Regions from separate parts of the Homo sapiens genome. Here region 1 is linked to region 2. The links come from fine-mapping of genetic effects on gene expression. A gene starts in region 2. The other region holds a variant in brackets. All regions are shown on one strand. Distances are between the middles of the regions. Region 1 overlaps KCNN3 (potassium calcium-activated channel subfamily N member 3). Region 2 holds the start of ADAM15 (ADAM metallopeptidase domain 15).

Evidence for each region.
Region 1: its variant is fine-mapped to the expression of ADAM15 in whole blood (INTERVAL, PIP 0.98).

Annotation. Positions count from the first base shown.
Region 1 is chr1:154,788,280-154,799,504 of GRCh38, reverse strand. All of the region lies in intron 2 of KCNN3 (potassium calcium-activated channel subfamily N member 3), which reads left to right. Among named protein-coding and RNA genes, the nearest start is that of KCNN3, 76 kb to the left of the region's middle. RefSeq lists an enhancer at 7,731-8,040. The variant G/T (reference allele first, on the strand shown) is at 6,140.
Region 2 is chr1:155,040,087-155,055,813 of GRCh38, reverse strand. ADAM15 (ADAM metallopeptidase domain 15) reads right to left here and starts at 4,498. Exons shown (of 23, transcript NM_207197.3): 1 at 4,349-4,498; 2 at 3,037-3,143; 3 at 2,321-2,397; 4 at 1,826-1,904; 5 at 1,588-1,664; 6 at 1,308-1,500; 7 at 1-24. The coding sequence starts at 4,427. DCST1 (DC-STAMP domain containing 1) reads right to left here. Exons shown (of 17, transcript NM_152494.4): 6 at 15,190-15,329; 7 at 14,201-14,417; 8 at 13,957-14,100; 9 at 12,958-13,079; 10 at 12,305-12,462; 11 at 9,822-9,921; 12 at 9,594-9,689; 13 at 9,328-9,454; 14 at 8,502-8,618; 15 at 7,885-8,027; 16 at 7,644-7,757; 17 at 4,884-5,197. The coding sequence ends at 4,946. DCST1-AS1 (DCST1 antisense RNA 1) reads left to right here. Exons shown (of 4, transcript NR_040773.1): 2 at 6,453-6,545; 3 at 9,659-9,854; 4 at 9,961-10,623. ADAM15-EFNA4 (ADAM15-EFNA4 readthrough) reads right to left here and starts at 4,498. Exons shown (of 26, transcript NR_176418.1): 1 at 4,349-4,498; 2 at 3,037-3,143; 3 at 2,321-2,397; 4 at 1,826-1,904; 5 at 1,588-1,664; 6 at 1,308-1,500; 7 at 1-24. RefSeq lists a silencer at 4,334-4,793 and an enhancer at 5,264-5,323.

The DNA.
Region 1 (11,225 bases), 250 kb after region 2:
TTTTCTGGAGACTCTGGCTACGCTCTTTGGACAGTTCACAGGGATAATCTCTAGAGGTGCCCTGGCTAGAACACGGAGATGCCTGGCACTGCTGTGCATTCATCCAATGAGTGACAGTGATCTTGAGCCCTTGACCTAATCCGACAGTGTGACCTAATCCCACAGTATGACCCAATCCATTTGGCATTAATGCTGGCTGAGACTGGAGACCACTGACCTCTTTTCCTTTCAGTTTGATCATATAATAAGAACTGTGTTAGTATAAATCATTATTTAAAGTGTGCTTTAGGCCAGGCATGGTGGCACATGCCTGTAATCCCAGCACTTTGGGAGACTGAGGCAGGCAGATCACTTGAAGTCAGGAGTTCGAGACCAGCCTGGCCAACATGGTGAAACCCCATCTCTACTAAAAATACAAAAATTAGCCAGGCATGGTTGTGCATACCTATAAACCCAGCTACTTGGGAGGCTGAGTCAGGAGAATGGCTTGAACCCAAGAGGCAGAGGTTGCAGTGAGCCAAGATTGTGCCACTGCACTCCAGCCTGGGTGACAGAGTGGACTCTGTCTCAAAAAAAAAAAAAAAAAAATGCAATAAGTGTCAGTGTTGTGTAATTGACTGTTAGTTCATAGCAATGGTCTCACCAGTCTGCCCACAGTATAGTGAGGTGGTAGGATGGAAGGCCTGGAACTAGAGACTAGGATTTGAATTTTGGCTCCACCACTTCTTAGTTGTGTAACTTCACACACTCTGTAAGTCTCGTGCCCCTAATCTGCAAAGTAGGTACAGTGTCAGTGCCTACTCATTGAGTTTTTGTGGGGACAAAACCAGAGAATGCTTGTGATGTGTTTGTCACTGTGGTCCCCATTACCCTTAAGAAATGTCAGCTCTTTTCTTTGCTCTTATTACTACATTAGTGTAAACAATGTCTCCCATAGAGGCTGCTCCTGAATTAGTAGTGTATTCTTGCCATAAATTACACTTGGGAATAGCCTGATTAATAGTCAGAGATAAGAGGCCTAGGGTGTAAACTCCACCAAATTGTTCAATGTGTGAGACTTTGAGTTAGAAGGCTTGGCGAATGTCCTGCCTCGCTATTTGCTGCCTTCATGGGTATAACTAATATACCTTCTCCTCATCTGTGAATGGGGATAATGATGTTCCTGAGCTATGGAGAGGACCAGGCAAGCACTGTGTGTCAGAGCACCTGGCATAGGGCCTGGTACAGGTCAATGCCCACCTATTTTCTGTCCTTCCTTTCTTCCTGTTTGTTCAAACCAGGTCTGAGGCTAACAGATGTGTCTTGGTGAGTCCAAGAGGGTGGCTGGGCCATAAGGGTTGGGGGAGTGGAGAAGTGGGGCTACCAGTTGCTGCTGGCAATTTGCAATATCTACCCTGTCCCAGGAATTGTACCCTGGCCTCTCGGGATGATTTAGTATGGCAGTCATGGAGCTGAAAGTTACAAATGGAGGCTCCAGTGATGGAGCTGGATTTCCTGTTCTATTTAGTCCAGAGCCCATGTGGAGGATCCAAGACAATTAGAGCCAGAGAGTGCTGGAGAAGGCCTCAGTGATCATCATCAGACCATCCTTCTTATTGAACAGATGAGGAAACTGAGGCCTAGAGAGAGAAGACACCTAAAAGTCCACACAGCAAGTTACAGAGACTTGCTCAGGCAGAGCCACACCCCTGTGTCCACGCCTCTGGTCCTTCTAGGTCTCTGGGGTCACACTGATCAGAATTCCTCCAGCATCTGCTATATGCCAAGCTTTGTGTTTCTCATTCAATTCATTTACCAAAAATTGAAAGAGTGCTTACACTGTTCCTGGCACTGGGGACACACTAATGAACAGGACAGATATGATCCCTGCCCTCATAGAGCTTCCAGGCTAGTGGGAAGGCACAGGGACAGGCAATAACAAGGAATCAATCAAATAAGTCCGTGTAAATTCAGATGCAGACAAAGAACGGAATGTGGCAGTGATGGGGGGTCATGGAGGAAGAAATGAATTAGGGTTGTAGCTTCAAGGGCGACCTCTGAAAGTTACTTTGGTATTGTGAGATTTATTTCTATTAATACTTCCTTTCGCTATGTACTACAGTATTATCTCCTCAGGAAAGTGAGGCTCAGAGAGGTTAATTAACTTGCCCAAAATCACACAGCCAGTCAGTGGAGGAGTCAGAATTCGAACCCTACTCTGCCTGACTCCGAAGTCCAGGTTTTTTCCACCATCCTTGATTATCTACAGAAATTAGGACAACCTACTACAGAATGTCAGGTAATATGGTAACCATTAGTATGAGCATTAAGGGACCCCAAGGCCAGACCTGTGAGCCCAGCCTCACTGCTGTCTCTGTCTCCTGTTCTAGGGGGAGGGACGAGGTGGATATTCTAGATGGTCTTACCCTCTCCTCTCCTTCGGAGACTGGCTTCATTGGGAGTGAGATGACACTGTCGCAGGGCTAGCTTTTTGTAGGCCACTAGTTGTCGCAGGCTGCTGATGAAGCCAAGCAGATCACCCCCATGTCCACAAGCACACCGGGATTAGATACATTTAAGTCCTAGATCCCAAACGCCTTTTTCATTTCTGGTTTTGCATTTGTTTCCATTCTACTATCTTCATTTGGAAAACCCTTTCATTCCTCAAGAAAACAAGCCACACAATCAAAAAAAGATGTGTCTTATCCTCTGGGCGCTGCCTCATTGCCTGCCCCATTATTGACCAATGCCACCGGAGTGCCTTGCACAGCTTGGCCAGCGTTCGCTGTGCACATCGACCGGTGAGCTGGCATGCTGACAGCGGCAGGGGCCCCCAGCTTCAGACACTTCTGAACCCAGCTGCTTTACGGACACAATCGGTTGAATCGGTTGAATCATGACTTGTCTCCCAAACCACAAATTTGTAACTAGTTCACCGTGAGCCTATGCAGCCAGATGAATTGTAACTTGGGCAGTCCCTGCACCTAAATTTTTTTTTTACCCAATAAAAAATGATATCTAGACATCTCTGTGTGCATGAAAGCATGTCTGTACGTGCGTGTGTATGTTTGGCACCAATGGGAAATACAGAGACGTGGAATGCCAGCTCTGCCCTCAACCTCTTCCCAGACGGGTGGGAGATGATATTCTGTGGACTGTAATTCAAAGAAGACAGACTAATAACAAAGAGCTATGGAGACCAGGGGAGGGGCAAGAATTCAGATCTGGAGTGGAGACCAGGAAAATGGTCCTGGGAGGCCAGACTCTTGGAGAAATGTGGACCTGGCAATAAGAATTTATGAGCTCTTTCTCCGTCACTGCTGAGTGTATATCTTCCAAGGTATTTTCCAGTGGGCATAAATTACCTTTCGATTGCAGTATTCGCCACCTCCACTCATCCCCCAACACCAGGTCTTATGTGGACTGTTAGGGAAGCCTCTAACTTGTACCCTGCCTCCTCACCCTTTCTGCACCACCTCACCTCATCGTCACAGCTGTGAGGAATCCAACAGACACACACACTGGACCTTGTCCTTGTCTGAAAACTTTTGGCTGCTCCTCCTTGTCCTTAGAATACAGTCTAGACTCCCCAGGGGGGCAGATAGAGCCCTCCAGAATTGGCCCTGCCCTGCTCTGCGGCCACATCTGTGCCATTTCCTCCTGGAACACTGTGCCAGTCAACCTGGAGTCCCCTGTGCCCATTACCCTGGAGTCCCCTGTGCCCCACAGGTCCACGTCTCTGGGCCTCTGCATGTACTGCTCCTCCTTCCAAGTGCTGTTCTCATCTCTTAAGCCTGAGCTGTCCTCCCTGACCCACCCCCACCAACTTTCAGTGCCCCCACGGAGCCTCATGCATACAGACGTCTCTTGCTGCACCTCTTATATGCAATATATTCCTCTGTTTACATCACTGCTCATTTACTGAGTTATATGAGGGTGGTCCAGGCCCGTGCCTCTTTGAGTCCCCATGCCTTATACAGCATCTGACAGAAGGGTGGCTCAGGGAATGTGTGGCACAGCAGTGAATGATGTGCAGCTTCCACCGTACTTCCAGACATGAATTGATGGTCCTGGAACCTTCAGAGAAGCCTTACCACGTTGTGATCAGTAGGTGGGGGACTCGACACTACCACTGCAGAGGTGGCTTTGTGGGGTGGCCCCTGTGTGTGCTCTTATGTTTGCAAAGTGCGTTCTTTCACGCAGTCAGCCTACCAATGGGTGACCAGATTCTTTCTTCAGAAGCCAGTCAGAAAAGGGACTTGGCTTCCCAGATTACGCAAAGGCAATCTAATCCCAGACCTTCAGTTTTTGGTTAGCCAGCGGCTGCACAAGTGTCACAGACCACAGGGGCTGGGCGACGGGCATGGTGGTCCCTCTGCTTTCCTGGGCACGTTAGGATGTCATTCTCTCACAGGACTCGTTTCAGAGAATTTTCCGTGTAAATGTGAAAGACCTAAATTTATGCCTGTCTCAGTAACTAAGTATAGGCTACTTATGGAACCACCCAGCTATGGGAAATCCAGCCATGACAACTAACTGTGAAGAAATAGCCCCCCTTATTACACAGAGCAGACATCCTCAGGGATTGGATGAAAAAGAGCTCTCTAGGAAGTCAGTGAAAACGAGCTCCCTGCCTCCTCAGAGTATGCCTGGTCAATGTGTGACAGGCTCGCTACTGGGTTCCCATGCTGCATCCATAACAGACATAACCAATCGATCCCAGCATTCTTTCTAGATGGGCTCAAAGTCCTTCCTCCCTCCAGTGCCACCTCCATGCACAATGCCTAGCCTCAGGCATACTGCTGCTCCTGCACCTCTGTGAATGAGCCCTCCACAGAGGTCCACCTTTGGTCCATGGTTGATCCATGGACCAAAATGCCTGTTCCTTGTGGGCCTCAAGACAGCTGAATAATCTACTAATTCAAAGGGAGACCAGAAAGGCAATAGTCAAAGATAATAAAGAGCATAACAATAGTCTACCCTCTATAATGCAAGTTTTTTCTCCTCTCAGAGGGTCCCTGATCCCATCAGAGGACTCAGTTCTTCACAAGCAAGACTGATCTTGCAGCAGAGGGCTGATGGAGTCATTTACATGGAGAGCCAAAGAGAGTCTCTCCCACCAGGACCTTGAGCTCCTTTGAGGTGTGCCTCATTTTTTCATTCATCAAGTGTTTATTAAGCATCTATGTTTAAGGGCAAGCTCTGGGGAAAACATGGACATAGAAACAGACATGGTCTCTGTCCTCAAGCAGCTTATAGCCTCAGAACAGGCCAGACATTAGTCAGATAATTGCACAAATGACTGTAAAATTACAACTGTGGTAAGTACTCCAAGGAGCCTAGATTGATCCAGTCAGAGGATGAATAGGATTAACTTGACATAGAGTGAAGGGAAGAACATTCTAGGCAGAGGGAACAGCATTCGGAAAGATTGTGTGTCAAGAAGGAGATGAGCACAACAGCCTTGGTGGTCCTGGGAAGAGGATTTGTCTACATTCTACGCACAACAGGAAACCACCAGGCAGAACCTCTAGCCCTGGGACAGTGCTGTGCACATTCGAGGGCTGGATGCATCAGTGAGGAACAAAGGCATGCATGGGGGAAAGGATCCAGTGTGATGGAATGACGGATGCTCTCCCACCCAGATTATGTGCAAACCCTGGAATGAATCCGCCTCCACACTGACTTTGGAGATCTGGGGCAGGTCGGGTTTCCAACTGCAGGTCTTTAGTATTCCTTGACTAAGTCAGCTTAGTCAACTACGTTAACGAGGTCAAGTCAAGCTAAGTTAACTACTCCAGCCATTCTTAGAGGTATTTCACTGCAGGCTTTTTGTGTTCTATTTCTGCCTTTCCCCCCACAACAGTTGGGTAACAGTCCCCAGCATAGTGAATAAGTTCTGTAAGATTTAATATTGATTTGTTGGAGTTTTTAAAAATTGAAAGTATAATTAATGATTTATTGCTACTTTGCAGTTTGCATTAATCACTGTCATTAATGGTAATCCTTTTAGGTGGTTTATAACTTTTAAATGGAGTCTGTTAATTCCCAAGCCTGGTGGCTTTGTCTCTAGGCTGCATTGGGGTCTGCCACCCTCCCATGCCCCCGACATCCCTCCCCATCACCCCATTTGCTTTAAGATACAGGGATGAAACTCCAG[G/T]TGTAAACTTTTCAGGGTCAGCCTCTTACCAAGGAACAGACATTTGGGTACCTTCCTGGCCAAGAGGAGGGGTGGTGCACAAGCTGGCTCTGGGCCTTTGCTGTGGGCAGAGAGAACCAGGCCACTGCTAGCTCTTCAACCCACTACTTCATTTACAACTCTCTGACTTTGTATTCCCTGGTTTGCATGTCTGACACCTCACTTGGCACATGATTTATTACAGCTTTTCAATAGCCCGTTCTTTCTGATTGACCTGTCCATCTCCATTTGGAGTGGAAAGATTGGCTTCTAGGTGTTTGTGGTGAGAATATTCCTGAGTGCGATGGTTTGGGGTTAGGAGCTTCCTGCTCTTGGTACAGAACCGAGGACCACAACTAAAGGAACTCCCCTTTCTCTGGCTGGGAAATGAAAAGGGTGGGGAAATACACACTAGAAGTTGCCTGAGACCTGGCTGAAGGAGAGAAACTTTCTGTTTTGCCAACACCTTCAGGGATAGAAAAAAAATCAAACTTCTGCCTGCATCACAGGCAAGGGAAGGCAGCTCAATGGAAACAGCATGAAAAGAACTTCGGAGCCCATATAGGTCAATCCCCTGCTTCTGGGGTGGGCATTCTCTCCCACATGAATAGGTCCAGATTTCATTTTGAAAACATTTCCCTGGGAGGAATCTTCCCTCAAATTCTCTCTCTTTCCGTCTCTACCCTTCTTCAAGGTTTGACAATCTCTCTAACCAAAATCCCTCTTGCTGTAGTTAGAGCCTCTTAGGGACCAGTTAAACTGGAATAAGGGATGGCCATAACAAAACATGCAAATTCCTTTTCCTTTTAAAGAGAAATATGTCTCCTGGATATTACCTGAATAAACCCATCAGCTTGCTGTTACTTTTCTGGGATTATACTTGATGAGGATGGTTGCAGAAAGTCCTGTAAACATCTTCTATAGTCTGTATGGGGAGGACAAGTCCCACCTGTTTCCAGTGGAACATTCTGATTCCTGTTGTTACTCTATATTTACAGAGTGGGCTCCACTAAGAGCCCACCTCCTTCTGTCACTGGTGGAAAGGCTATTTAATATGATCCCAATTAGAGGGAGGAGGATCTGGGATGGTTGTTGGAACATGGCAGACGGGGGAGACCCGGAGGGAATAAACCACCCCAGGATGCTGTGTGACCACCTGACCCTCTGCAAAGCAGCATCGTGGCACTCTGTTCCCTTTCAAGGTTCCCACAGTGAGTGCCACCCATTTTTACCACAATGGCAACAGGATTTATGCTCCCACCCACTCTCAGTTCTGAACTTTCTATGGCTTTGCCCCTCATTGGTCATAAAACACGTGTCACCTGCCTCTCTGACTTGGCTTTTCTTGCAATTACATGGTTTCCTTTGCGATCTTCCTGGCCAGTGGAAGCAGAAGGATGCTTTTACAGACAGGGTATTATAGATGGGTTGGCAGATGAGGTGATTTCTGAGGGCCTGGCACAATGCCCAAAGGGACGTGAGTCAGCTCTCAGAGGAGGTTTGGTTTTTCCTTCCAAATTCATACAAACAGCAGTGAAGTTTAAAAGATCCTCAAGTGGATTACAACCCCCATTCATTTGGCAGCAGAGGAGCACAACTGTCAAAAAGTCCAGGTACTTTAAGCTGTGGAAGAGGCACAGAGTCACTCTCAAGTTGGACAGGGCTTCAAGCTATTTCTAAAATTAACATCGGGGCCTTTCGTTCCCTTTCGAGGTTCCTTTGAGGAATGGGTGAAAGCCACCTCTTCTTGACCACAGCAGTGACTGGATTTATTTTTGTCCTGTCTTCCTCCTCCACATTCTCAGTTCTCGAGGCTTTTTATTGTTTTTGGTTTTAGCCAGGCTTGGGCTGGTTGCTTACTCTCCGGTGTGCAGGGCTTCTAGAAGTGTTAGCCACAGCCAGCGGGAGGCAGCCGATCACCCATCCCACCTGCTGAGCTGTCGCGGGCAGACATCTGTTGAGCTCCTCCCCAGCACCAGCCGCAAGAATGTACCTGATGTGGTCTTTGCTCTGCAAGAGCTCTCAGTTTAGAGCAGTCTTTTTGAGAAAAAAAAAAAAAAAGTGGTATGATACACGTAATATAAAATACCATCCTAACTTGTTTTTTTTTTTTTTTTTTGAGATGGAGTCTCACTCTGTCACCCAGGCTGGAGTGCGGTGGTGCGATCTTGACTCGCTGCAACCTCTGCCTCCCAGGTTCAAGTGATTCTCCTGCCTCAGCCTCCCTAGTAGCTGGGATTACAGACATGCACCACCATGCCCAGCTAATTTTTGTATTTTTAGTAGAGATGGGGTTTTACCATGTTGGCCAGGCTGGTCTCGAACTCCTGACCTCAGGTGATCCACTCACCTCGGCCTCCCAAAGTGCTGGGATTACAGGCGTGAGCCACCACACTTGGCCTCATCCTAACCATTTTTAAGTATATAGTTCAGTGATGTTATGTTTACTCATATTGATGTGCAAACAATCTCCAGAACTCTTGTCTCCTGCAAACCTGAAATTCTGTACAGTATATACATGGGGGATGTGTTCCAAGATCCCTGGTGGATGTCTAAAACTGCAGATAGTACCGAATCCTACAGAGAGAGATAGTCCCAGATTTAACGATGATTTGACTTAAGATTTGTCGACTTTATGATGGTGTGAAAGCAACACACATTCAGCAGGAACTGTACTTTGAATTTTGAATTTTGATCTTTTCCTGGGCTAGTGGTATGCGGCATGATATTCTCTTGTGATGTTGGGCAGCGGCAGAGAGCCCCGGTCAGCCCTGTGATCACGAGGGTCAGCAACTGATACAGTACTCTACCGTTTACAGTGTTCAGTAAATCACATGAGATATTCAATGCTTTATTATAAAATAGGCTTTGTGATAGATGATTTTGCTCAAATGTAGGCTAATGTAAGTGTTCTGAGCACACAAGGCAGGCTAGGTTAAGCTGTGACATTCGGTAGGTTAGGTGTATTAAATGCATTTTCTACTTACAATATTTTCAATTTACAACGGGCTCATCAGGACGTGACCCATCATAAGTTAAGGAGTATCTGTAATGCTGCAATGAACATGGGTGTGCAAACATCCCTTTGATACTCTGCTTTTAAAAGCAAGTGTTCTTGGCTGGGCATGGTGGCTCACGCCTGTAATCCCAGCACTTTGGGAGGCCGAGGCGGGCAGATCACCTGAGATCAGGAGTTCGAGACCAGCCTGGCCAACATATATGTTGCCATATATGTAGCGAATCCTCATTTCTCTACTAAAAAATGCAAAAAATTAGCTGGGCATTGTAGTGCATGCCTGTAGTCCCAGCCACTTGGGAAGCTGAGGCAGGAGAATTGCTTGAACCCAGGAGGCAGAGGTTGCAGTGAGCCAAGATCGCACCACTGCACTCCTCCAGCCTGGGCGACAGAGCGAGACTCTGTCTCTCAAAACAAACAAACAAACAAACAAACAAACAAAAAAAGCAAGCATTCCTAACCTGGGGCCCGTGAACTCCCAGAAACTAGCTGCAATACATGGTGTGTTTCTGTAAATGCTTCTTGTTCTAGGGAAAGCAAATTCATAGCTCGCATCAGGTTTTCAGTGGGCTTAGGATGTCAGGAGGGCTCAGTCTAGAGAGTAACAAAAGCAGCACCTCCTTCGGAATCCCCCAAGGCCCTGCCTGTCCTGAGTGCCGCCTCTCCGATGGCAGGGCAGGTGTGAAGGAGCAAGTCATTCACTTCTTGGTTCCTGTCCCAGCTGTGCCATTTACTACCTGGGTGACACTTGGCAGTTCAGCTGACGTCTTGGAGCCCTAGTCTTCAAATCTGTAAAATAGAAATAATGACAACGTCTTCCTAGGATTGTTAGGAAGATTAAACTAGATTTAGCACAATGGTCAAAAGCATAATGTGGTAGGCTGAATCATAATGCCCCCCCCTGCCCCACCGACCACCACCCTGCCAAAATATCCAGCTCCTAATCCCTGGATATCCTGGCAAAAGGGACTTTGCAGGATGTGGTTAAATGAAGGATCTTGAGATGGAGGAGAGTATCCTGGGTTATCCAGGTGGGATCTAAACGTAATCACAAGTGTCTTTGTGAAAAGGGAGGCAGAGGAAGCTACCGAAGAGGAAGCAGGACGAGTGATGGTGAAGCAGGAGGCTGGAGTGGTGGGAGAAGAGGCTACGAGGCAGGGAAGGCAGGCCCTCTCTGGAAGCTGGAAAAGCAAGGAAACGGATTCCCCCGCCTGATCTTCGGGAAGGAGCCAGCCCTGCGGACAACCTCCACGTTAGTCTAGTGAAACTGATTCCACACATCTGGCCTCCGGAGCTGTAATATAATAAATCTGTGTTGTTTTAAGTAATGTGTTACAGCAGCAATAAGAAATGAGTGTACGTGGACTCTGGGGCCAGACTGCCTGGGTCTGAGTAAACCACTTACCAGCTGTGTGACCTTGGGCATGTCACTTAATCTCTTCATGCCTCAGTTTCCTCATCTTTCAATAATAAGGCCCACCACAAAAGGGCTGCTATGAGGAGTAAAGAAGCTAGTATGTGTAAGTCATTGAGACTAGCACCCGGAACCTAGTAAACGCTGTGTTAAGTATTTGTTAAATAAAATAACTAAAAAGCACGTGAAGGTGGCTGGCTCACAGGAGGCTGTGGGGTGATGCGAGTGGATGCTGACGGGTTTGGCGGCGTGGGCTGTGCTCCGTGGAGTCAGTTCAGGAAGGCAGGGGAGTATTTGGTGCCTCTCAGGAAGACTATGGTAATCTTCATGAAAATGAACCATGGATGCTTGAAGGAATGAACCCTCCATTGTCTGTTACACTGAATGCCTCACACCCTGCATTTCCCAGTGTTCCTTGAAATATTAATAGCTGTTACTTCAAAACAAGAGTCAAGGTCAAATAAGTTTGAGAAACTGCATTTCAAAGCCGACTTGTTTTCTTTTCTTTAGAAGTCTCAGAAGCTTTAATATGCTAATGAGCCTGATGAATCTCTGAGAAGCATTTTTCAAACATTTGGCCACTCAACCACTTTGTATGGTGCTTCCAACATGGCCAGCACTCGGCAGAAGGCGCCTCA
Region 2 (15,727 bases):
GGTCTCTGTTACCACATCCCGCCTCTACTATGGACAAGAAGAATTATCAGGCAAACCTGCCGCTCGCAGCCAGCAGCTGTGCCGGGCTGACCAAGAGGCAGCCACTCCTACTCTGTGGGTCAAATAGGAGGGTGAAGAGCCCATTTTACAGATGAGCCACTGAAGGCCAGAGGGCCCAGGAACTTGCCAAGGAGGACCAGGAAGTAGATAATGAAGGTTGGAGTAGACCCCTGCTTTTCTGGCTCCAAACTCAGTGGTTTTTTTCAAATTTTTAAAAAACAGTAATTTAGCTGGGTGCGGTGGCTCACGCCTGTAATCTCAGCACTTTGGGAGGACAAGGCGGGTGGATCATGAGGTCAGGAGATCGAGACCATCCTGGATAACACGGTGAAACCCTGTCTGTACTAAAAAATACAAAACATTAGCCGGGTGTAGTGGCGGGCGCCTGTAGTCCCAGCTACTCGGGAGGCTGAGGCAAGAGAATGGCGTGAACCTGGGAGGCGGAGCTTGCAGTGAGCCGAGATCATGCCACTGCACTCCAGCCTGGGAGACAGAGCGAGACTCTGTCTCAAATAATAATAATAATAATAATAATTTTTAAAAATCCCAATAACAACTCTTGTCACTTACCATAGGTCTGGCATAGTTTTAAGCACTTTACATCTATATGGACTTATTTAATCTTCCCAGCAACTCTATGCAGCAAGTAGTTTTATTATCTTCATTTTACAAATTAGGAAATTGGGTTTATATTGCTTCATCATTGGTAACTATGTATTATCTATAACCAAGTGAGAGCTCTCTGCAAATGGGATCATAAGACAGATGAAGAGCCAAATACAACTAATAAATGGATAGGCCATTTATTAGTTGTAGGGCCTCGGGCAAACCACCTAATCTGTCTCAGCTAGATTTTATTTTATTTTATTTTTATTTTATTTTTTGAGACGAGGTCTCACTCTTTCACCCAGGCTGGTGTGTAGTGGCTCGATCTCGGCCCACTGAAACCTCTGCCTCCTGGGCTCAAGCGATTCTTCCACTTCGGCCTCCTGAGTGGCTGGAACTACGGGTGCACGCCACCATGCCCAGATACTTTTTGTAAGGTTTCGTCATTTTAAAATAGAGCTATTGATAGCACCTACCTCCTAGGTATGGGAGGAGTACACGAGCTAATGTTCACAAAGTGCCCAGCATGTGGAAAGTGCTCCATTCGCAGGAGCTGTTGTTACTGTGCACACATAGCTCTAAGTGTCTGGGGATCAGCCCTCAAGACAACCAAAGCCCACCCCCCTGCCATTCATCCTCACCCGGCGAATGTGGCGCTGTCCCAGGGGGTGCTCTGGTGGCTTCTGAGTGTGTACAGATTCCCGCCAGCTCAGGGCACAGGTGTGGCCTGGCAGGTGGAGATCTTGGATTCGCGAAATAATGGGAGGACCCTGAAGGTCCCCAGGCCCCTGCTCCAGGGTATAGCTTCTCTCTGGGGTCAGGACCACCAAGCCTCTAAGAAAAAAGAAAGTCAGAGAACATTTCAGCTCCATGCCTGGGTCTCCTTACTTTCTCTACTGTCATTAAATCCGCCCAGTATACCTGAGCCCAGAGCAGGTGCAGATGGACACCCAGGAGCCTGCATATCCCCGCACTCTTCCCTGGTAGCAGCAGTTCTCCTGCAGCATGGGAACAACATTAGTGCTGTCTCAGAGAGCACACCAGGACTGGAACTGAGGAGCCTAGCTTGACGGTAAAAATATGCAGTGTCCTCTCACCTTCCAGCCACCCCCTCCCTCTTTCCCCTAAGCCAAAAATGGCACAAGAGGGCCTGACTCACCAAAGTGTGTCCCTCACTGACCACCCGAGTGCCATCGGGCTGGTACCACACCAGGGTTGGGCGGCCTGGGACCAACTCCCTGTGGAGTGAAGAAAAAGAAGGCAGTGCTAAAGCCACTTCCCAGGTCGTGCATTGACAAGCAGAGGCTTGAAGGTGGTTGTGGGGCTGGGGACCAGGCAACCCCCGCAGCCAACTTTTCCACTCCTGACCCCGGGGCAGCAAAGTATACTGGTTGGGCCACTGACTCTGTTAGTTTATTTGAATTCCAATCTGGTTTTCACCACATACTAGCTGTGTGACCTGGGGCAAGTTATTTAATCTCTCTGTGCCTTGACTTCCTCATGTATAAAGTGAGGACAATAATACATGATAGTATATCCCTTATAGGGCTGTTATGAGGATTAAATGAGCACAAGCACTTAGTACCTGGCACATAATAAATGCTATACAAGTTGTTGGCCATGTGGTCACTGTTATTGCCACCATCACTATTACCTATTCTGTAGCAGCTCCAGGATATGACTGTCACCGTCCAGCTCCAACTTGATCCTCAGGGGCTCAGGCAGACTGGTCTGTGGGCACCAGAGGGCAGGTCACCTCCCTAGACCTGTCCACAACTCCCAGCCTCTCTAACCAGAAAACCTCAGGCCCACAGAAGAGCACCAGCAATTAGATCACTGGTGGGGGGATCCCAGGGGAGGGGCCAGGAAACCCTGCCTGGCCTGGAGCATTGTTCTGGGGGGTTGTGTGCGGAGGTCAAGGAAGGTATCTGAGCCACCCCTTCTCGGCTTCCTGCCCAGAGAGGAAGCACCGTGTAGGACCCAGCACAAGCCCCAGCCCTTCCTCTGACTCAGCTTTAGAATGGGGTGGGGGGGGGGGGGTTTGGTAAGGTCCTGACTCTTTCCAAATCCCCCCACTGAGAAAACCGACAACATGAGATGAAGAAAGCAAGTTTGGCTTCACAATTTCCCCAGTGGAGATGGATGGGTTGGGTGGGGCTGAGGCAGACAGATACACGTGTGTGCAGAGGGAGAGGGAGATAAGTGAAGCCAGGTGCTGGGGTGTGGTGGGAGAGGCAGCTGGGCCTGGGATAGACCCACTACAGTGAGCTCTACCCACCAGCTCCTCAGCCAAGCTTTGGCTTTGAGACACCTGGCTATACCGGGGCGTGTGTGGATTCGTTTATTTATTAGAGGGGAGTGAGAGCTCACCTGAAGCACCTTTTTGAGGCTAATTGGGAGATCGTCCTGAAGGACCTGGGGCTCCAAGGGCTCCCTCGGGGCCTTCTCTGACTCTGCCTGCTGCTCCTCAGTGCCACCTGCAGGTCCCAGGACACCCCAAGACAGTACTGAGGGAATCGACAGCAGGGCTGGGGGTGACAGGTGCCCTCAGATCCACCAGCTCCCAGCCCATCAAGACCCTTAGGTACCTGAGGGGCTTCCACATTGCATGCTGAGACTTAAAGAAGAATACTGGAAGGAGAGGGTGTCTCTCTAATTTATGGCTTTCCACCCACCAACCCATTCACAAGTCCCCAAGAAAGACTTTCGGCTTGCGCAGCCTGTGGCCCTCCTTGTCCCCTTCCGGCCAATCCCAGGTTCTCACAGGACCCTCCCCGGTTCCCACTCCCTCCCAATCACTCTCCCCCCACTTCAGGAACGCCCCCTCTCGAGACTGAGCTAAGCCTTGTGGCCGGGTGCCCGCTCACCCTCCCCTTCGCTCACATCGGAGATGCCAGGAACGCCCATTTCTGGGTGAGCAGTGCAAACACCCCCACCTCCCTAAACACCCTCATGCCCAGTCAGGCACACCCGCTGCCTACAGCCTCTGCTTCCTCCTCGAGCACCCCCCACCCCCCCAACACACAATGGCCCTCTCTCCTCCGGACACTCCACCCGCGCCTGCCCTCTCGGTCCCGGCCCAAGACAGCAGCGGGAAGTGAAAGTTCCAAGGAGGAGTTGGTGTCCCAGCCTCTTTCCTGGCCAATTCTCCCTTCTCCTGGCTCATCTCGGGCCCCTCCCGCTCGGCCAGGCACTGGTGGCAACAGCACCAGGGTGAGGAGTGCCTGGCGGCCCCAGGCCTGGAATAGAGGCTAGAGAGAATCCTCTTCACTAAACCCTACAAGCCATGCCCGCTCAGCGCCCTGGCACCGGGTCGAACGGTTAGCTAGGCCCCAGAGCAGCGAAGATGCCAGTCCTGGGGAGCAGCGACCCTCTCATCACGATCTTGAAGTGGCGCTGGACAGGCCCCTCGGTACCTGGTACCTGAGCCTGAAAGTGTCCGCAGGGACCGCGCAGAGGATGACCAGGCAGGAGGCAGGGGGCGCCGGCATCCCCCCTCCTTCTCTTTTCACCCCATCGCCAAGTCACCGGGCCCTAGGCCCAGGACAGCGGACCAGGGCGGGCCGCGCTCTGGCTGGGCTCTCCCAGGGTCTCCGTCCGGCCCCATTACCCTAATGCCTTCCGACTTTCCTGCACCTCCCTCCCAGTCCGCCCCCCGACCCACTCCAGGCGGAGGACTCACCTATATTTGGGAGCGGCCAGGAAGGCAGAGGGCTGCCCGCGCCCAGGAGCCCCAGGGCCCAGAGCAGCGCCAGCCGCATGGCAGCGGCGCTCCGGGCCGGGCGAGGGCAGCAAGTGCGGAACAGCGCGCGGAGGAGCGGCCGGCGGCCAGGTCGCCTCGGAGAACCCAGCAGCGCCGCGCGGCCACCAGGCCCCGCCCCGGCCCGCCCCCTCCCACCCGGCCCCAAGCCAAGCTCCGCCCCCGGCAAAGCCCGCCCCGCTGCGCGCCGGGTGCCTCGGGAGCGGGGACACCGCCCACTACGCCCGCGCTGCTCAGCGCTACCGCTTCCCCGCAACTGTGCGGAGTGGGAGCCGGTGCCCGGTCCGACCGGCTTGGGCGGCGCGCCTTCACCCGGCGCCAGGTCCGGACCCCTCCCTAGTAGCTTCGCGGCCTCCCTGCCTCCTGTGCGCGGCCTGGCTCGGAGAGGTCGGGCGGGCAGGCTTTCCCGACTGCAGGCGAGGCAGTGCGCGGCTCACCCCAGTCCCCGACCCACGTGAAGCGTACAGGGCATTTTATTAACCGGGAAGGACGGTGCGGAAGAGCGAGCAGGACGCCTCTTCACCCCGCGTAGGCAGTGTCGTCGTTGCTGTCACTAAAGGCGGAGGAAGAGAGCTCTTCGCGGGGCGTGCAGACCGGGCACCGCTGCCGCATGTCGTCCCAGCACGACCAGCAGTACACGGCCTCGCAGTCCAGCGTCCGGCACACGTAGGACTCGGGCGTCTCGGGTGCCTGGCACACCACGCAGCGCCGGCACAGCCAGCGGCGCAGGAGCGGGCAGCCGCGGTGCAGGATATCCGCCAGCGGGTGGCGCTGTTGGGAGGTGGGCGTTAGCGCCAGCCCGGGAGCGAGGCGGGAAAGAAGGGGAACTGGACAGCGTTTCCTGTCTGAAGTCGCCAGGCCTGACAATTCCCGCGTGTTGGAGGAGGCTGGGTTGGACAAAGGAAACCCCTGGAGGGCGAGGGTGCCTCCCTCCCCAACTCTGTGATGGAGAATGGGAGGATGCACCCTCCAGGCTCTCTCCAAGCGGATATCAGCCACAACTCTCATTTGCACTTTCCTGTAAATCATCTTATTTGGTTCTCACAGTGAGGCTGAGAAGTGAGCAGGCCAGATCGACTATCACTGTTGCTATCCCCACTTTACAGTTGAGAAAGGTGAAGTGACTCTCAAAGTCACACAGATAGTAAACAATCCAACTTGGCTGGACCCCAGGGGCCCTGATTCCAAACCACAAACCTAGTTCACTATGCTCCCTGCCATCCCTCACGACATGTCTCTACACAGTTGTCAGGGATTTTCCACAGGCCACCTTACCCAGGAAGCAGCCACTCTTTGCCCAAGAAACTCCAGAGGCCCTGCTGCCTGCCAGACAGGCAGAACTCTTGGGCTTGGCCTTCAGAGCCTTCCCTCACCTGGTCCCTTTCTAGCCTCTTTCCTACTTTAGCCCTCCCTGAGAGCTGTCTCTTCTGAGCCAGTTTCTCCTGAGACTAGCCCTGGCACTTCGCATTCCCTGTGGACTGAGTCTTTGCACATTCTGCTTGGAATGACTGTCTGGCACATTTCCATCTGTGCATTCACATTCAGTTTGCTTCACGACCCTGTCAAGGAATCCCAGCATGTTCTTTTTTGTTTTTTGTTTTTCATTTTTTCACAACACATTCATTTGGCCCCTATTGTGTGTCATGGGGGCTGGGGGTATCCAGGCCCTAGGGAAAAAGCTAAGCAAACACAGTCTCACTTTTATGAACTTTGTTAGGACTGATTAAATAAGAATGGCTGCCACTCATTGTTTATAATGTCAGGTCCTGTACTAAGATACTGTACATAAATTATTTCAATTCTAAATTAGCCGGGCGTGGTAGTGTGTGCCTGTAATCCCAGCTACTCGGGAAGCTGAGGCACGAGAATCGCTTGAACTGGGGAGGTGGAGGTTGCAGTGAGCCAAGATCACGCCACTGCACTCCAGCCTGGGCGACAGAGTGAGACTTAGTCTCAAAAAAAAAAAAAAATTCAATTCAATTGTCATGTAAGGCAGATAGTGTTATTATCATCTCCTTTTTTTCAGGTGAGAAAACTGATGCTTGGAGATGTGATCACTGCCCAGGGTCACCCAATGATAACATGCATGCATATGGAACTTGCTGCATGCCAGCACCATGTAAGTACAACTCATTTAATCCTTAAAACAACCAGATGGAGTAGTTAACCCCATTTTATGGAAGGCAAAAGCCCAGGCACAGCAGTTAAGTCATGTGCTCAAGGTCACACCGTTGTCATAGTAATGAGGGAAGGAGCCGGGATACACACTTAGGCCCTCTGGCACCGGAGTCCCACACCTGACCACCACTCTAGGCTGATCTCCAGTGAGCAGGCCTTACAGATCTCTCCAGTCTTGCCATTCTTCAGAGGGAGAAACTGAGGCTCAGTGAAGACCTTGGCCAAGGTGACACAACTTAATGAGGGAGTATGGACTGGAGTCTGCTTCCTCAGATTCCATGTGCCTTACCATGTGCCCCTGCATGAGGCCTTCCTGACTCCCAGCCCACCTGCCTCCTCCTGTCCCTTGAACTGCACTGAGCTTCTGGTCTGCAGCCCTCTGGTAGAAACTTTGGTTTTGCCTTGGGCCTCCTGTTTCTGTGCGGCCCTCTTGCTTTTCTATGAGCAGACTGTATTAAATCTCATTCTCCTTTTCTGCCTGCTTCCTAATGGTCCACTGAGTGTCTTAGGCTGGGCTGAATCCTGGGATTCAGAAACGGGCACAGCCCTGACCTTAGGAGCTGGATGGCTGGGGCCCTCAGCATGTGTTGCATCAGATTACACCGGGCTTGGCTGGGCTTGGTGGCTCACGCCTGTAATCCTAGGACTTTGGAAGGCTGAGGTGGGCAGATCACCTGAGGTCAGGAGTTTGAGACCAGCCTGGCCAACATGGTGAAACCCTGTCTCTACTAAAAATACAAAAAAATAGCTGGGCGTGATGGCGTGTGCCTGTAATCCTGGCTACTTGTGGAGTGGGGGGCTGAGATAGGATAATCGCTTGAACCTGGGAGGCAGAGGTTGCAGTGAGCCGAGATCGTGCCACTGCACTCCAGCCTGGGCGACACAGTGAGATTCCATCTCAAAAAATAAAAAGAACTTACCAGGCTCGAGTAGGCCTGCGACCATTGGTGGGTGCTGGGTGGACTGAAGGGAGCTGCCCCTTGCCTGCTGTACTTAGACCCAGCCAGGAGCTGGCAGCAGCACTTACGCCTGGACTTACCGGAGCCTTCTGCTGTCGCTCCCGCCTCAGGATAGCGGCCCTCCTGAGTTTGGTGAAGGCTGCTCTTTTCTTCAATAGGTCATTGTAGAGGAACAGGATCCGCTTCTTCTCTCGCTGGGGGCAGGAAGGGGGTCAATGATAGAGAAAGGCATCCCCCAAATATGGAGTTGGTAGGGAGCTGGGTGGTGTGTGTGTGTGTGTGCAGGTGTGTAGGGGTGGAGAGGTCTGGGGAGGGGCAAACCTTGGGGAAGTAGAAGGCTGCGATGACCCTCCGGAGTCGGTAGCCAAAAGCCTGTAACAGGCAGAGACACACTAACAGGCCAATCGGTACTGCAGCTCTCCAGTAGGCCCTGGCATCCAGGCCCACAGGCTGGGGCAGGCAGGCTAGGGGAGGGGCAGGCCAGGGGTCTGGTCAGGACCAGCCAAGGGGCAGGGCAGCCCTGGGTTGGACTTCCCATCCCAGTGGGAGGTGCAGTCCTCTGATTCCCCTGCTCTCCTCCTGCCTGCCCCTCACTGCAGAACTGCCCTGTCAGTACTGTAGCCGCTGGGCCCAATGTGGCACAGATCTTGCAGATTTCTATCTTGACTGAATGTCCTGTTGGACAGTGCTGCTCTGGAGGGCTGGGGCCCCCTAGCCACAAGACCCTGGCCTCCAGACTCCTCTGACTGAAGCTGGTCATGCTCCCCTTTTTCAAGCCTGCCCAGATGTGTTCCCTGCTCCGATTTCCCCAGCTCAAGCGCTCCAACCCCCATCTCTCCACACCCAAGGCCCAGGCCCCTAACTCTTTACCTTGGAGTCTTTTGACCCTTGCCCCACCGCCCTCGATTCCTCTGATCCAAACTTTCAGCATCACTCACGCATGTTGTTTGATTCCATCACTGTCTCTGAGGAGGTGTTCAGGGCCCCAATGGTTTTTCGAAGAAGCCGGGCTAGCATGGAGTCTCCCCCGACCTTCACCTCCAGTTTATGACTGCCTGCGGCCAGGAGGACAGGTAGGGAAGTCAGGGCAGGTGGAGAAATCAGGAATGTGTTAAGGGGGTGGATGTCAGGGAGGGGTCAAGACACAGAAATGCTTCTCAGCTGCCTGAGTCTTTCTGTCCCTTCCTGAATCCTAACCCCTCCCTGCTCCCAGTTGTAAGTGTAAAGGGGTACAGAGCCCCCCTCCCCTGCTGTGAGAGCTGTCAGGTTGCAGGGCTGTCATTTGACCTTGAGGAGGACAGGGAGGGGCTGAATCACAGAAAGGGGAAAAGAACAGGCAGAAGGATGGCTGGCACAGTGGCACACACCTGTAATCCCAGCACTTTGGGTGGCCGAGGCAGGTGGATCACTTGAGGTCAGGAGTTCGAGACCAGCCTGACCAACATGGTGAAACTCTGTCTCTACTAAAAATAGAAAAATTAGCTGGCCGTGGTGGCTCACACCTGTAATCTCAGCTACTCAAGAGGCTGAGGCAGGAGAACTGCTTGAACCTGGGAGGTGGAGGTTGCAGTGAGCTGAGATTGTGCCAATGCACTCCTCCAGCCTGGGTGACAGAGCGAGACTCTTTGTCTCAAAAAAAAAAAAAAAAAAGAGGCAGAAGGACGAGGCACAGTTGGAAGAACTAGGGTGGGGTGGCTGTGCAGGCATTGGAGTTCTCCAGAGGGTGTCTCTTGGGCCTGGAATGTGTCTGGGGGATGGGCTTACTGCGGAAGGAGTACTGCAGGAAGGAGTGGTGGCGGATGGTGTCGAAGATGGAGTAGAGAGCCCAGTCCAAGCCACACAGCACCACCAGCAGCAGCAGAATGGGCAGTGTCTCCAGGAGCTCCCTCACCTGGCCAAGGAGCAGGAGGGGCAGAGCTGGGCAGTGCCATCTGCCTGGGCACGGAGCACTCTCTGGTGCCTTTTACCCTCCACCCTCACCTTCAGGCCTGTCTTTGCACCCAGGAGTCCGCTCCCCATGCTGTCCTCACCACATTGCTCATTTCTGAGGCCTGGATGGTGGGCTTGCAAGGGAAGATGACGGTTTTCTCCTCAGCTTTGCGGAGTGGCAGCAGAGTCCGTTTGCCCTGGAAAACAAATGTCCACACAGTTAGGAAGCCCAAGGGCCCTCTGCCCTTTCCTCTCTGCCTTCCTGGAGCATGAACCCACACAGGGCACACAGCAGCAAGGCATCCCCGGGCAGTGCCGTGCCCACTCACCAGCTTCTTCCTGCGGTCATCGATCTGGCAGAAGTAGGTACTGATGTAGATGTTGTCAAAACGAATGTCATGGTTATAGCTGTCCATGTAGGAGAAAGACCTGTGGGTGGATGGGCAGGGATGTCTCCATCTCTTCCAGGTTCTCCTCATCTATCCCCAAACATGGGCTTCCTTGAGGCACAGTCATTCAACCAACCAGCCAGCATTCATTGAGCACCATCTATGTCCTGGGCACTGCTAGGGGATGGTGATAACAGGGAGAAGACTCTGTCCCTGCCTTCCAATTGTGTAGAGGAAGACATCCCCCTACATGATGGGTGAGACATAGCAGAAGTGAGTAGGGGATGAGGTGGGGGCTCAGAGGAGGGCATGGTCAGCCTGTCTGGGAGGGAGTTGCATGTGTGCATCTGAGGTAGGGACAGGCATGCATCTTACAGGATGAATATCGAGCAGAGTTACAGAGAGGGGGAAACTCCTTGAGGTTTCAGGAATCACCTAATCCACTGTGACTCACAAATTCCTGCCTCTTGGCTTTGCCTGCAGCATATCTCCTGGAAGTGTGCTGGGGCAAAACTCATCCCAGACCACCATCTCCATCCTCCCCCAATACACCCTGGCTCTCCCTGGCTACCCTTGAGCACGGTGCACGTGTGCATGGGTGCATGCCTGCATATATAGCTATCCCCCATGTATTTCCCAAAGCCCTACATAATGCTTCAGTTTGCTAAGGAAAAAATGTTAATTACTGCAAATGTGTTTAAAACTGTAAAAGTACATTAAACAAACTCTGTAAAGTGTGAAACATTAGTTTCAATGCTATTGCTTCTGGGGCCCTGTAAAAATCCACATCTTTGCCTTTAAAACTACTGTAAGTGCAAAGACATACTGTGAGTGCCCTCTTGTGGAGAGGCTCACAGAGGTGGTGCCTGGGCTTCCTGAGCCAGGGCCTGCCCTCCCGCCAGCTGTCCTTTCAGTGCATGACCTCACCCAGCTTGAAAGCCTGGAAGTAGCTTTTGACTCTGTGCCTCCTTCCTTCCCTCCACAAGCTGGCTCTGAGCCTCGCTGCACCTTTCCCCTTCCCCCACCATCTCAAGCCATCTTCCTGCCATGCTCTACCCGGGCCAGGCTCCCTAACCTCCAACCCAGCCTGGCCTCCCGCCCTCCCTCCAGACTTCCTGAGGCCATCTTGCCACCACCGCCAGTTCCAGGTCTTCCTGCAGGGCTTTCCAGACTGTTCTGGTCATGCCCACTTCAGTTCTCCAGGCCAGCCTCTGCCCTCTGCATCCCATGGATACCAGGAGCCTTACGCAAGGGACACCCTTCTTTCCTTGACCACCGTTCCGCATCTGCGGCCATTTGGAGCCCAGTTATTGCCCTTCCAAGGGGCACCTTCCCAGCTCCCATACACGTCTCAAAAGCCAATCCATAGAATGGCCCTTGAACCATCTCTGTCTTGTGGGTGTCTCATGATCCCAACTAGATCATTAGCTTTTTTTTTTTTTTTTTTTTTTTGAGACAAGCTCTCACTCTGACACCAGGCTGGAATGCAGAATGCAGTGGCACAATCACAGCTCACTGCAGCTTCGACCTCCCAGTGATTCTCCTGCCTCAGCCTCCCAAGTAGCTGGGACTACAGGCATGTGCCCCACACCTGGCTGATTTTGTTCATTTTTTGTAGAGACGAGGTCTCACTGTGTTACCCAGGCTGGTCTCAAACACCTCAACTCAAGCCATCCTCCCACCTCGGCTTCCCAAAATGTTGGGATTACAGGAGTGAGCCGCCATGCCTGGCGATCATGAGCTTATTGGGGGCAGGAATAGAGCTCCTTCATCTTTGTCTTCCCATGGGGCCCTAGATACACACATACCCACTCACTTGCAGTCACTCTAGGCCCCCCACATAGGGGCAGACAGAGCAACAGCCCTGTGGCAGCCCTCACCCAAGCCCTGCCCATCTCAGGTGTTTGGGAGTGGAGATGGGAAATAGAGGGTCCAGAGACCAGCAGGGGAGCTAGAGCAGAGCAAGGCCCGGGGCAGCCCAGCTGGACACTGGGCTGGGTGGGGTTGAGGACTTTGTTCTAAATGGAGGGAAAGTCGCTGCCAACGCAGCAGGCAGGAGAAAATGAAAGCAAAATGGAAAGATAAAAATGGCACAAAGTCAGAGCCAAGGGGAATATGAAGGGCAAGAAAAAATCAAAAGTCAAAGCTAAACGTAAAAAAAAAAAATCAGTATTGGGATAAAGGCTGGAAGGAGGTGGATGAATGAAGACGGTTGGCCTTTTAAGGCAGTGGGAACATGGGTAATGTTCTTCTGACAAAATGTCCACTTTTCCTTTAACTTTGTGTAAACAAAGACAAAGGTAAATAATATTCAGATTCAGAGGTGAGGATAGGTGCTAGGGTTCCATCCTTACAGCCTCCCTCAGGGCAGGGCTCCAGTCCGGGGCAGAGGAGGGGCTGCTGGGGTGGGGACTATGGCTCACGCATGCAGGACCAGCAGGAAAGTGCAGGAGAGCAGCACGTGCAGCAGCCCCAGGGCCCACTCCAGCCGGGCCTCCTGGCGGTACACGTAGTCCCGCACCTCGGTGCTCACGCGCTCCCAGCTTGTGTTGAGCCCCAGCACCCCAGCCTGCTTCTCTTCCTGGTGGAGGGCACATGAGCAAACTCAGCCTGCGGCCACCTCGTCAGACCTGGGTCCCACCTCTTCATGACATCTGTTCCCCAGTACCCCACTTGTGTCCCTGGGGCCCTCCCAGGACCTCTAGGAGTTGTCACTTCCTTCTGCTCACCACCCTCCTGGACACAGTCTTGCTCCCCTGCACCTACATCAGCTGACATCATCTCATATCTGGCTGATAGCTCCCACCCCAGGCCAAGTCTGCACAAACCACAGGCTTGGCACTGTCCCCTCCTCACCACCTTTCCCCTCCCCTGCCCATCTCAGGTGTTCGGGGGTGGAGATGGGAAACAGAGGGCCCCCTCAACACCAGCGACATTCCCCCTCCTTGTCCCCCTCCCTCACCCCTGGTCACCTCTTTCCTGTGCCCTCTCACTTGTCCTTCCTCTAGCTCTATTCCCTCATGCCCTCCTCCCACTCCCTATCTACCCCCCACCAACCCTCGCCCTTGCCTTCTACCTTGAAGTCAATATTGGCTGAAAATTCCCCATCCAGGCCACGAATAGACTGGTTGAGGGAGTCGTAGGTCTGCCCAAAGTTGCCTTCCACTGGGATGCGATTGCGGCACCAAACCTCCATCACTGGTGAACAGTGGACGGGGTCAGGGGCCTCCCCGGGCCTGTCCTCCAGGTGCAGGCCTGGCCTGCCTGTCCTCCTGTAGTCCTCCTCATCCTGCTTTTTTGTCTCTCTGCCCATGGCTTGCTACCACACCAATGCTGAGTCTTCCCCTCTCTGCTCTCTTTGGATCCTGCCCTCCAGGAACCAGACCTGAGTTCCCTCATTTTTGTCAATCTATCCTCAACCATAACAAACATCAGTAAGGAGAGCCAGCGTTTACAGAGCAGCTCCTCTGTGTGCCAGCTCTGCCACTGCCTTCACATACGTTAGCCCCATAAATCCTTAAAAGCCCTTAATGTGGCTGGGTGCGATGGCTCACACCTGTAATCCCAGCACTTTGGGAGGCTGAGGTGGGTGGATCACCTGAGGTTAAGAGTTCAAGACCAGCTTGGTCAACGTGGTGAAACCCCGTCTCTACTAAATATACAAAAATTAGCTGGGCATGGTGGCGGCCACCTGTAATCCCAGCTACTCAGGAGGCTGAGGCAGGAGAATCGCTTGAACCCGGGAGGCAGAGGTTGCGGTGAGCCGAGATTGCGCCACTGCACTCCAGTCTGGGTGACAAGAGTGAAGCACCCCGTCTCAAAAAAAAAAATTAATGCAAGAACTACTGTTATTCTGCCCATGCGCATCTTTCAGATGAAAAGCCACAGCTCAGAGCTTTGCTGTAACTCACCCTGCGTCACAGAGCTATTCAGCAGGTGGAGGGCTCTAAGGATGCTGTGGCCTCAGGGCCAAAACCCTCCTCATCTGTTGCTTTCCTGCCTGTCACCTACCAGTGGGTCCCAAGGACTCAGCTCCCTACCCCGATGCTCCCCACCCCTTTGCAACTGTGCAGACCCTTGGCAATGCCACAGAAGAACTTGAACTTCATAGGCAGGCAGAGCAGGTGGGTGAGGAGTGGGACCCAGATGTGCTTCATGCACTGTTCATGCTTGCGGTCAAACCAACGACGGCAGCTGAGTATGGCCTGGTTCACCACATCTGTAGGAAGGAGCAAGGGTGTCTGAGGTTCCCACATCTTGATCCACAATGCTGGCCCCACATCCCACCCCACCCTCCACTCCCCAGGGATACCCCTCACAGGAGCAACGCAGCTTGGTCTTCAGCTCATACATCTTCTGTGTCGACAGGTGGAGTCTGGAGGCTGGGGCTTGGCGGGCCTCCCTGCCCTGGGCTGTCTCCCCTGAGTCCATGGTATCCTCAGGCGTGTAGCCCGTCTCACTATTCACCTGGGCATCCAGGTCCTCAAAAGTGGCGGAGATGTTCCGAGTCTCTGCTCTCAGCAATTCTTTGCTACTCTGGGATTGGAGGTGGAGGGAGGAAAGGGTGAGGGCTGGGGCTTTAGAACTTCTGCTGCCTGAGGGCCTGTCCTCCCCCAGTAGCCAAGCTTTGGGTTCTCACCCCAGGCCGACAGGGAGCCTAGGCCCTGAGACACAGCCTCTCACCTCAAATTCCCGGCTGTCCATTGCCCTTGGGAGCCCCCCCACCAGCTGCCTTGTCTGATGCCACATGTCCTGGCTCTGCGTACCTCCCAGACTCTCAGCTCTTCCTCAGTCCTCCCATCCCAGACCCTTCCTGGTCAGTGGTTCCCCAGGTCCTTAGACCTTACCCTTCACCACTAGTCTCTGAGATCATTATGCCATCTGAATGCCCCCAACTTCCAAACCCCTCAGCCCCCATGTCCCCAACTCTCCAGCTCTCCAATTCTCCCAAACCCCCAGTCTCCAGCCTTCCAATACCCAATTCTTGAATACTCTTGTCTTCGAAACTTCTGAGCTACTCAAGGCCAAAGCCCCCAAATTTCCTAGATATTCTAGTTCAGCTGTCCAGAGTACTGACCACTCAGGTATTAGGAAATGTGTATAGAGCATGTCCTAATGACTCAGGGGCTCTCCTGGCATTTAACACCAGGACCAGGGCACGTTCTGCAATGTTTGGGAATAGTTCTGCAAAAAATGCCAGTAGTATCCCCATTGGGAAACTGTAAATCCAGGGTGACAACTCCCAGCTCAAGTTAACTTGGCCCCAGGGAGAGGGACCCCCCAGGCTCTGCCTGTGCAGATTCCTGACCAGCAGGTCCTTGAACATGGCCCGTAAGGGGGCTGTGGAGATGCGCCAAGCTGCGCGGGTGTTGTTGATCTGCAGCTCCACGGTGCAGCCCAGCGATGCGATCACGTTGTTGAGATTGTGTCGCAGATTGGCTACTGGCCCTGGAGAAAGAGGCCCTGGTTGGTCACCTCCCTGTATAACCAGCACTTTCTCAAACCCGCTCAGCTTCCCTCTGCAAATAGTGCCCATCGCCTAGAACTATACAGTGGTGGGGCCGAGAGCCTATGAAAGGTCAACTTGTTCAACCTTTGATTTTTTTCACTGTTTTTTTTTTTTTTTTTTTGAGACGGAGTCTCCCTCTGTTGCCCAGGCTGGAGTGCAGTGGCTCGATCTCTGCTCATTGCAACCTCCGCCTCCCGGGCTCAAGCGATTCTCCTGCCTCAGCCTCCTGAGCAGCTGGGATTACAGGCACACGCCACCATGTCTGGCTAATTTTTTGGTATTTTTAGTAGAGACGGGGTTTCAGCATGTTGGTCAGGCTGGTGTCGAACTCCTGACT